3 linked regions of the Homo sapiens genome follow. The protein of the gene in region 1 interacts with the protein of each later gene in a pairwise test. Each region holds a gene or a part of one and is shown on either strand. Other genes may lie near its edges. The genes, in order: CHCHD2, LHX4 and MIF4GD.

Evidence for each region.
Region 2: the proteins of CHCHD2 (region 1) and LHX4 interact in binary tests that used the Homo sapiens proteins (3 or more experiments, as listed by UniProt).
Region 3: the proteins of CHCHD2 (region 1) and MIF4GD interact in binary tests that used the Homo sapiens proteins (3 or more experiments, as listed by UniProt).

The regions. Positions count from the first base shown.
Region 1 is NC_000007.14:56,104,675-56,108,274, forward strand, and holds the start of CHCHD2 (coiled-coil-helix-coiled-coil-helix domain-containing protein 2 isoform 2 precursor), read right to left. Parts: upstream 1,803-3,600; 5' UTR 1,740-1,802; coding exon 1,690-1,739; intron 1-1,689. UniProt on the Homo sapiens protein: Transcription factor. Binds to the oxygen responsive element of COX4I2 and activates its transcription under hypoxia conditions (4% oxygen), as well as normoxia conditions (20% oxygen).
Region 2 is NC_000001.11:180,228,560-180,232,383, reverse strand, and holds the start of LHX4 (LIM/homeobox protein Lhx4), read right to left. Parts: upstream 2,121-3,824; 5' UTR 1,855-2,120; coding exon 1,779-1,854; intron 1-1,778. UniProt on the Homo sapiens protein: May play a critical role in the development of respiratory control mechanisms and in the normal growth and maturation of the lung. Binds preferentially to methylated DNA.
Region 3 is NC_000017.11:75,265,583-75,268,310, forward strand, and holds the end of MIF4GD (MIF4G domain-containing protein), read right to left. Parts: intron 2,611-2,728; coding exon 2,501-2,610; intron 2,320-2,500; coding exon 2,164-2,319; intron 2,049-2,163; coding exon 1,956-2,048; coding exon of another isoform or gene 1,869-1,955; intron 1,386-1,868; coding exon 1,158-1,385; 3' UTR 646-1,157; downstream 1-645. Other genes in the region: MRPS7 (small ribosomal subunit protein uS7m), read left to right, coding at 120-341. UniProt on the Homo sapiens protein: Functions in replication-dependent translation of histone mRNAs which differ from other eukaryotic mRNAs in that they do not end with a poly-A tail but a stem-loop. May participate in circularizing those mRNAs specifically enhancing their translation.

The sequences.
Region 1 (3,600 bases):
TCAGCTCACTGCAACCTCCACCTCCCAGACTCAAGCGATTCTCTTGCCTCAGCCTTCCGAGTAGCTGGGATTACAGGCACCCGCGACCACCTCCGGCTAATTTTTTGTATTTTTAGTTGAGACGAGGTTTCACTATGGTGACCATGGCTGGTCTCCAGCTCCTGACCTCAGGTGATCCACCCGCCTCGGACTCCCAAAGTGCTGGGATTACAGGTGTGAACCACCACGCACGGCCTAATTTTTTTTTTTTTTTTGAGACAGGGCCTCACTCTGATGCCCAGACTGGAGTGCAGTGTCACGATCCAATCTCACTGCAACCTCTGCCTCCTGGGTTCAACCGATTCTTCTGCCTCCGCTTCCCAAGTAGCTGGGATTACAGGCGCGCACCACCACACCTAGCTAATTTTTGTATTTCTAGTAGAGACGGAGTTTCACCATGTTGGCCAGGCTCGTCTCGAACTCCTGACCTCAAGTGATCCACCCGCCTCGACCTCCCAAAGTGTTGGGATTACAGGCATGAGCCACCACGCCCGGCCACTTTAATCTTTTCTTATAATAGTAATAGCCTAGGACATACTAGTTTTTTCTGCTTCTTTGCAACAATTTCCATGTATTCGGATAGCCCACAGTATCTTTAAAGACATATCCAACATGTCATAAGAAATACAGACTACTAAAAGTTAGAAAGATTCTTACAGGATTCATTCATTCAAGTATTAGGTAACTACAAGGCGCTGGTAATGTAACTGTGAACAAGAGACAAAAATCTCTGCATTCATGGAGTTTACATTTTATTGACGGATCAAATAATTAACATAGGCTGCGGAGTGGTGGCTCTTGCCTGTAATCCCAGTGATTAGGGAAGTGGAGGCGAAAGGATCATTTGAGGCCAGGACTTTGAGACCAGCCAGGGCCACATAATGAGACCCTGTCTCTGCTAAAATATAAAATAGAATAAAGTCGCCAAGTGTGGTGCACAGGTGGCGCATGCCTGTAGTCCCAGTTACTCTGGAGGCTGACGTGGTAGAATAGCTTGAGCCCAGGAAGTCAAGGCTGCAGTTAGCCATAATTACGTCACTGCACTACAGCCTGAGTTAGACTCTGACTCAAAATATAAATAAATAAACATTCTAATTAGGACTTAAAGATGGTCAACTGGGGAAATAATCTAGTCCAATTCCTTCATTTTACACATTACAAAACAAGACTGGCCAAAGTGACTCGTCTGAACTATTATACCAAAAGCAACTTCAACTATTCCTCATCTGTTCAACGTTCAGATGCTTTCAACAATTTCGAGACCCCTTCTCAAATAACAAAAGACTAATTATGTCCTGCACGTATTTAAAAATCTTCATATGTATCACGCTCCCTCTGACCATTTCCGGATTATTTCCTTGGGTGCTCTTTTCCCCGAAATCAAGCTAGGTCAAAATTTATGCCTTCCTACCACCTGGCCATAACGTTATGCCTTTCCCGTTGTTTGGATAGGAAGCTTTTTCCGTAAGTGAATTCCCTCCCCACACTCCCCTAACATAGGCTTTACGTTCAATCTACCCCCGCCTGGCAGAGGCGAGCCCACGCCGCAGCCGACCTTAGTTCACCCCCGCCCGCGGCCTCCCTCTGCGTCATTGCCCCAGTAGAGTCCGGACGGCCGCGCTTTGGTCTCAAACCCTGCGATGGTCTCACCTGGCCGGAGGGGCCATGCGGGAGGTGCGGCTTCGGCTTCCACGCGGCATCCTAGGTAAGCGACGGCTAGGCCTCCGGACGTGGGACAACCACCGAAGAGCTAAGCGACTTCTGAGGAGACCGGAAGATGGGAGGCGGGGCTGGCCTCAACGCGCAACCAACCAGCACACAGGCAGAGAACTTCCGTTCTCCGTCGTCTCCGCAGGCCTGAAGTTCATTGGAAGAGCAGGACGTCACGGGGACGCCTCGTCCTTCGCGGTCAACGCCCTGAACTTGGCGCCAGGATCTTTAAAACCCGGAAGTTCCTGTGGTTCATCCGCGAACCTTGTCCTCCGGTCCTCGCATCAGAGCACTTAGCATTTTGCTTCCCTAGGGCAGCTGGCCTGTCGCTCCGTCCTTCAAACATTTGTATTAAATCCAACCTTAAGAGTGACTCACATCTCTGGCTGGATTGCCAGGGGACCTTGGGCAGATTTCTTAGCCTTTCTGAGCATTCAGTTATAAGGGCAAATATTTTTGGAGGCACAGTGTGGACGCGTAGTATGAACTGAATGAAAGAAATCGGTTTCGTCAAAAATAAACAGAGTTGAATTAGTTGTATTTGGTATTTCTCTTTCTTGTCTGTGGATCCAGTCAGCAAAAGTTAAATTCAGGCAGCAATAATGTTTTACATTTATGTATTACTATATATTTTCAGCTCCTTTTCATATGTATTATAGAATTTGTGTCCAGAATTGGGACAGTAACCATACACTGGTAAATTCAACAAAAATTTACTGTCTAACTGGGTTATGGAGATACTGCACCAAATCAGATAAGATTCTACCTTCACGAAGTTAAGTTTCAAGGAGGGGAGACACAAACGCCTACGTAAATCAGGTGGTGGTGACATGAAAAGAGAGGAAGGAGACTGGAAATTAGAGGTTAGGCGGGGCGGGGGGGAGTCATTTGAACGGAGCCCTTGAAGAGGTGGGGAAGCAAGCCATGTGTTTATGAAGATAAGAACACTACAGGAAGAGAGAACAGCAATTGCAAAGGCCCCAAGGATCTGTGCTTTAGTGATACTTGGTGTGAAATGCTTTTTTTTTTTTTTTGAGACGGAGTCTGGCTCTGTCGCCCAGGCTGGAGTGCAGTGGCGCGTTCTCAGCTCACTGCAGCCTCCGCCTCCCGGATTCAAGCGATTCTCCTGCCTCAGCCTTCCGAGTAGTTGGGATTACAGGCGCACGTCAACCCGCCTGGCTAATTTTTTATTTTAGTAGAAACAGGGTTTCGCCATGTTGGTCAGGCTGGTCTTGAGCTCTTGACCTCAGGTGATCCATCTACCTCGGCCTGCAAGGGCTGGGATTACAGGCATAAGCCACCAGGCCCAGCCTGAAATGCTTTCAACAGTTACATTAAACATCGCTAAAATAAGGGGAAATTTGGCTAGTGGCATTTCATAAGGGGCTCATGGGAAAGTCCCTTGCGGTTGGAGTGAGGTTTATTGAGGAGAGGAAGCACACATGGAACCATTTCTGCTTGATGTCAATCAGAAATTTCTCCCTTCCATCAGAGGAAGTAGAGTTTAAAACAGCCTTCCTGTGTCCCAGCAACAGCAGAATGTACTTGGAACTAAAGGGTGAATAATGTGGCAGCTAAGCTATGAGGATGCAAAGGCAAAAGAATGATATAATGGGCTCTGGGGATTTGGAGGGATGTGCTAGGTGGGTAAGGGATAAAAGACTACACTGTTGAGTACGGTGTACATTGCTCAGGTGATGGGTGCATCAAAACCTCAGAAATCACCACTAAAGAACTTTTCCATGTAACCAAACACCACCTGTTCCCCCAAAAGTATTGAAATAAAAAGATTTCAAACAATAAAAAGGGTGAATTATATAAAAATCTTTTGTAAAAAACAAAGCTTTATTT
Region 2 (3,824 bases), on another chromosome or scaffold:
CAGGGAAGGCAAAAAGTGAGACAATCAGAGTGTCACTCATCACAAGAAAGGCCGTCAGAGCAGAGACCATCGTCCTTCATTGGGGTCCCAACAGACAGGTCACCTACGGACCACAGCCATGAAAGCACAGACGTACTGGGTACCAAGGACACTAGTAACACACACACACCCTTCCCCCACTCATGCAGTCTCCTCACTCGCGCAGAGCTACAAGCAGCTTAAGGACTCGGTGCACCTTTGCAGGGTTTCTGTTTCCGTCTTTGCAGGGGCTGAGAACCCACTCTGTCCCTGCCTGTGTGCGGGGTGTGGGGCGTAGTGAATCTCCAATGCCTTCTATGAAAACATCTTAGCGGTAAACTCCCCAAGGCTCAACACAGACGTGGAACTGATTGCCGGCAGTTGACACGAAAACACTCAAAGAATAACTGTAGAATACAGCCAAGAAACAATCTAAATAGGCTTGGATGAAGCTATTCTTTTCTAGTCCCTTCTCAAAAACTTCCCAGGGAAGCCTACGGTACGCCTGCCCTCCGAAGGATCGCCGGACAGAAACCCTGCCATGGAAACCCGAGGCGCAGGAGGGCGCGCTCGTGCGCCCTAGTTTGTAGGTAGTCACCATCCCTGGATGAGCCGGCCCTTACTTAAAGTAAACCCCGAAGATGTAGCTACCGCACCACTAAAGAAGTCGCAGGCGGAAGTACAACCCCTTGGCAAGCGGAGCGAGGAACTCCTTGGTCTCTCCAGGGTGCCCGGGGCGCCCTGCTGAGCGTGCAAGCCACAGGGGCAGGACTCTCCCGGCGCTTGTCGCGCGCGCGCGCGCGCGCGCGCGACGACTGGGCACCTGTTCTGGCCTCTGCACAGATTCCCTCTCGGGGACTCTCGCTCAGGAGTGAAGCACAGAGACGGATTCCCTTCGGGAAAATCTCTGCGCGCGCACACCCATACACACAGAGAGAGACTTGGGGATAAACACGCCGCGAGCTCCGGCTGTCTCGCTAATTTCGGGCGCGGGAAGAAAGCGGGCGGGCAGGCTAGCAAAGCTCCCACACACCCCCGTCTCTACCCCTCCAAACCCGAGCCACCCTGAGCACCTGCCCTCGCGTGCGCAAAGGCTGAACCCGGAATTCACAACTTGCGGTCGCTTCTCCCTCCCCTGCATTCCTAGGCTAGCTGGAATGCGCGAGCAGATTCCCTCACAAGGAGCAGTCAGTTTCCCGCGGCGCACGCGGCGGGCGCCGCGGGCAGTAGCGGCTGGGGACTCACCCGGCACGCACGCCCGGGGCGCGGGCCGCAGGGACTAAGAGTGTGGCCGGGGCTTCTCCGCCGCCAGCCCCAGGGGCGAGAGACGCGCTCTCCAACTTCCCGCCAGCTGGGGTGAAGTTGCACTAGCGGTCCTGCAAGCGCTGACCGTCACGCCGGCGAAAGAAGATTTGTGGGGACCACCCTCGCCCTCAGGCCTGGCCTACAGCTCGTACCCCTGGGTGTCCCCAAACAGCACTCTCCCCAGCGTTCCAAGAAAAGCCTTGGGCTGGAGATGCGGGGTTCGGTACTCGGCTCGCCTCAAGCATGATCCAGGAGGCGTTCACATTCGGCCCCAAACAGCCAAGAGCCTGGCCCCCTCAAACGCACTCTGGCTGGTGCCCCTGCCCTGTGACCGCCTCTGCGCCCCGGCCGCCAGCCCCTCCCGGCCCCTGAGCGGCGTCCGGCCCGCCCCGCAGCGGCTGAGGCTGCTAGCTGTCTTGTTAGAATTAAATCAGCGAGAAAGGGGGGTGTCTTACGTTGCATCGGCACACCTAGCATCTCCGGGAGCCCCTTGACAGCCCCTTCCGCGGGGACAGTCGCACTCTGCATCATCTCGGAGCGAAAGCCAGCGAGTCGCAGTCTACGGAGATCTCTCGCTCTCTCGCTCTAGCTCGATTCAGAAATTTCAAAATAATAATTAAAACCCCAAGCAGGCCGCTGGAGTCACGGTGGAAGCCGGGCCCTCCGCTTCTCAGGGAGGACTCCACAGGCTGGCCGGCCCCCTCCCCCCGCCAGTCCCCAGTCTGTTTCCAGTCCCTTTGATCTCGCTCTCCGGGGTTGGTGCACATCCCAGGTTGAGACGCTGTTGCTGCAGCTCTGGCTTTTTTCCTCTTCCCTCCCCCGCCCGCTCCTTCCCCCTCCCCCTCCACCCTTCGCGTGCCGGCCGCCCGGGAGGCCGCGGTCACCCGGGCGTTTTGATTCATTCACACTGCAGGAGCGGCCGTGACGTCGCTTTCCGCAGGGAGGCCCGCCCTTCGGCACATCCCCCAACCCGGCGGCGGGCAGCCGACCCCGGAGGGAGTGGGGGTCCCGGCGCCCCGAGTGAGGCCGGCGGGGCGGAGGGGGGCGGGGCGGCAGGGAGCGGGGCGGGGCCTCGCAAGCCGGCACCCCCCCCCCCTCCCCGCCTCCGCCTCCGCCTCCGCCCAGCCGTGGCGGGCTCGCGCCCTGGGTATAAATTCTGCTGATGGCCTGCCGCGGCAGCAGGTGGTCGGAGACGGCGGCGCCCTGGGTTTGCGGGTCTTCGTGGGTTCCAAGCCCGCGCGGCTCGTGTCCTCCTCACTCCTCCGTTCGGACCCAGGGGCGGGGCGGAGCCGAGCCGGGGCCGAGCGGGGCAGGCGGTCCGGAGGCCGGGGACGGGGCTGCGTCGCTGTGTCTTCGCCTTGCGCGCTCTCGGTCCCCGGCTTCGCTCCGCCGGACGGAGCGCGCTCCGTAACCGATGACTCCATCTATCTTCCTCCTCCTCTTTCCCCTGGCCAATTCCTTTCCTGCCGGCACTTCCCAGCCCCTGCTCTCTCTCCCCCGCGTCTGGCTGAGGCTGGGCCAAGGGACAGCCCGTACTCGGCCCGGAACGCGCGAGTCACGCGGCGGGCGGCGCCGGCCCGGGCTGGGGAAGGGGACCAGGGGCTGTGCGCGGAGGTGGCGGGACGCAGGCCCCCCGCGCGCGTCCCCGCAGACCGCGGCCTGCAGCCGGAGTCCGCACTTGCCTCCAGTTCCGCAGGGTAGGGGGCCCAAACCTCCCCGCGGCGGGGCCTCCCCGGCCGCCCTGCCACCAGTCGTCCAGCTCGGCCCTGTCTTAGGTCCCTAGAGCCCGCTCTGCCTCTCCGGCTGCCACCGCGGGTGCTTTGAACCATCCGCGACCTCGTGCGTGCAGGGCGGCAGTGAGCACACGGACGCCGGGGTTAACCAGCGAAAGGGCTTGCCATGCTTACTGTATTTACGAGATGCATGGACAGGTAGAGAAACGCTTAAAACAAATTCTCCTCAACGCGAGTTTCTGGCAGAAATACAACAGAAGGCCCAACGCTGGGACGAGGTCTCCTCTGACGCTCCATCAGGCGCTCGACGCCTCCGGGCTGCAGGCGCGGGAAGCCCACCCCGTCTGCCCCAAGACCCAGCCGCTCTCCTGCCCCCAGCCCCCACGGCATTTCCTTCCAGAAATGCAGACATACGTGTCCTTCCAGCCTAGTGGGGTTCAGCTTAGGCGGGAAGGGGGACTGTGTGCCCTCCCCAGCCTTCCAGAACCTTCCCTGCTGTTTCCCCTGGTGTCATCTCCAAACAAGGGACACCTGCTCACCTTTAAGGGAGGAGCATGGGGCGGGGGAGAATGGCCTGGTCGTCTGCGCTGCTTAGAATTTGTCTCCAATGAGGTCACAGTGACTTTTGTGTGTCCTGGTACTGGGTTGGCATCATCTCTTCCCTTGTTTACCTGCGAGGTGACTCCGCGCGCGAGACAATATACACAAGAAGAAAAAAGCAAAAGAACCCAGTGACATTTTTAGTGTTTACCAAAATGTGTTCTATAG
Region 3 (2,728 bases), on another chromosome or scaffold:
GGCCTGACCAGGGCTGGTCCAGAGGGAACATGTGGCTACTCCTTAGAATTCAGGGAGGCAGGAGGCCCCAAACCCTGGCAGACTCTTGGACCAACTTGCCTATGTCCTGTCTCACCCAGGTCCCTGTACCCCTACCCGACCGGCGTCGCCGCTTCCTAGCCATGAAGTGGATGATCACTGAGTGCCGGGATAAAAAGCACCAGCGGACACTGATGCCGGAGAAGCTGTCACACAAGCTGCTGGAGGCTTTCCATAACCAGGGCCCCGTGATCAAGAGGAAGCATGACTTGCACAAGATGGCAGAGGCCAACCGTGCCCTGGCCCACTACCGCTGGTGGTAGAGTCTCCAGGAGGAGCCCAGGGCCCTCTGCCGCAAGAAACAGTGTGAGCTACTGCCACGCTGAAAACTACCTGTGGGTTAAGGATGTAGTTCCTTTGTAAGGGTGGGCAGGCCTCGTAAGAAAGATGTAGCAGCATATTCACTATCCGTTAATCCTTCTTTCTTTGAGGCTGGAACTTGCTCTCTCTGCCCCTATTTCCTTGTAAAGAGGGAGCACATTGACTTGGGAATTTCCTCCAGGAAACTCAGGGCTGTTTTCTCTTCCCTTAGGTTGGGGCGGACCTTTGGATATATAAAGGAAGCAGTTTTAGTATCAGAAAAGATTTATTAGAAAATTCTCACGCTGAACTGGTGTAGCATGTGGTGCAGCATTCAGTGAAACTGGCTGGAGGAAATAGGCTTGTTTCCAGAGTTGTCCTTATACAAAATGTATAAAAAGCAGTTTCTGGTGTGACTTGTGCTCTGCCTCCACCCCTTGACATCCCAAAATATCCCACCAGTGGCTATGCTTACCCATTTTACAGATGGGTAAACTGAGGCACCAAGGTAGTAGTTGCACTAATGGTTACACAGTGCAGTGGCTCTTGGGAGTTGCCCTTCTCTGCCTGGCCGTGGTGGGTTGTGGTGGGGAAAGGGGCTCAGGGCAGGACCACGGCATAAGTGGGAAACATCTCACCAGGAGATGGGAAAGTCTAGAAGGGAAGACACTCAAAGTCTGGAAGGGAAAAGTCTTTGGGTGAGGCAGAGACTCCACTGCCAGCTTTAGAGGTGGGTAGAAGAAAGGCCAGTGCTGGTGAGGAAGCCCTGATCTGGAGGCCTAGTCGGAGACTTCGCTGTAGTAATACTTGTGGGCAGCTGGCGTTGTCTTCCAGCCGGCCGCCCGGAACTCAATGATCTCCAGCAGCAGCAGCTGGGCCAGGGAGCTGAGGCCAGTTGGGAGCAGGAAGCCATCCCGGATCAGCACAAAGAGCTCATCCATGCGCTGCCCATTCATTTTCTCCAGCTGCTCCCCAACCCGGTGCAGCTGCAGCACCAAACAGTCCACCTGCAGGCGACAGTGTGGGTAACACAAGTGAACTGGGGCAGTGCCAGCCTCTCACACAGCATTTGCCAAGTGCCAGGTGCTGTGCTTTGCCTTTACACTCATTCCCTTGCTCCCTCCTTACCATCCAGTGGGTACTTCCACATCTTACACAGAAAGAAATGAGTTCCGGGACTTGCCTGAGGTCCCTCATCTGGCCAGGCTCCACTCAAGCCTGTCTCCAAACCACTTCTTCATCCCACTCTCCTGCCTCCCACACACTGCCTGACCCTGGTTTGGCTTTGGGGCCGTCTGTACCCACAGCTAGCCATGGCTTGCACAGCTGCCATCATACGTTGGCTTTCTGACTGAGAAGGAAGCTACTGAGCCAGTAGGTTTTGGCTGCTCTCTATTGGATAAACTCCAGACCTGGCAGCTTGTCCTATAACTGACAGGCCTTAAACACCCCCACAGTCCTGCCCCAGAAGTGACACAGTCCTCAGAGACCTCCGTGAGCAGTGGGCTGACACACGGCTGAGCTGGACTGTCCATCCTGCAGCCTTCTGTGCTTGTGCCAGGGCTGGGGCCACCCACCTCCTCCTCCTTGCTCAAACTGTCTGGCTGGGCCAGCCGGAAGAGGCAGTCATAGACAGGGTTCACCAGGGCCATCATGGGCATGTTGTTCACCTGTGAGGAAGAGGAGGGGTCAGAGCACCAGGCTTAGTGGCCAAGGGGAGCAGTCCAACCTGGGCCTCAGGAAACAGGCCATGTCTGCCTCCCAGGGTGGCTGCCGGGGCCTCACCCTCAGGTAGTCAAAGATGTTGCAGATAAAGGTGACATAGCAGACCCAGCCCTGCAGGGAGCGTGCTCGCAGCTGCTCCCGAGCCTGGTACTCCTGCTGCAGCCGGTTGAGGAGTCCACGTCGGAAGACACTCTGGCCTGCTTGTTTACTCTCTGCCTGTGAGCCAGGGAGAGGAAGGTGAAGGGTGGGGGGCGGTGCCCCTGTAACCCCACCCATCCTATGCCTCTCTCTCTCTTTGAGCTAGACCCTGTGCATCTCTGTCCTGCAGGCCAGGCCTTCTGCCCACTCCTGAAGCACCTTCCTCAAAGCAGCTTCCTTTCCTCTCCCAACCCCCAACCTGAATGATGGCGTAGCACATGCGTCCTGCTTCCTTGCTGAACACACAGTCCTGCAGAGAATGGTCCACAATCACATTGGCCACTTTCTCCAAGTCCACAGCACCCGGATCTAGGGGTAGAGATAGGAGGGGAGTCTAGAGCTGCTGCTTTATCACATTTGTGTCCACCCGCTTCTAAGAATTTGAGATATTTACAGTAGAGCACTCATATGCTTGAAGTGAAAGAGA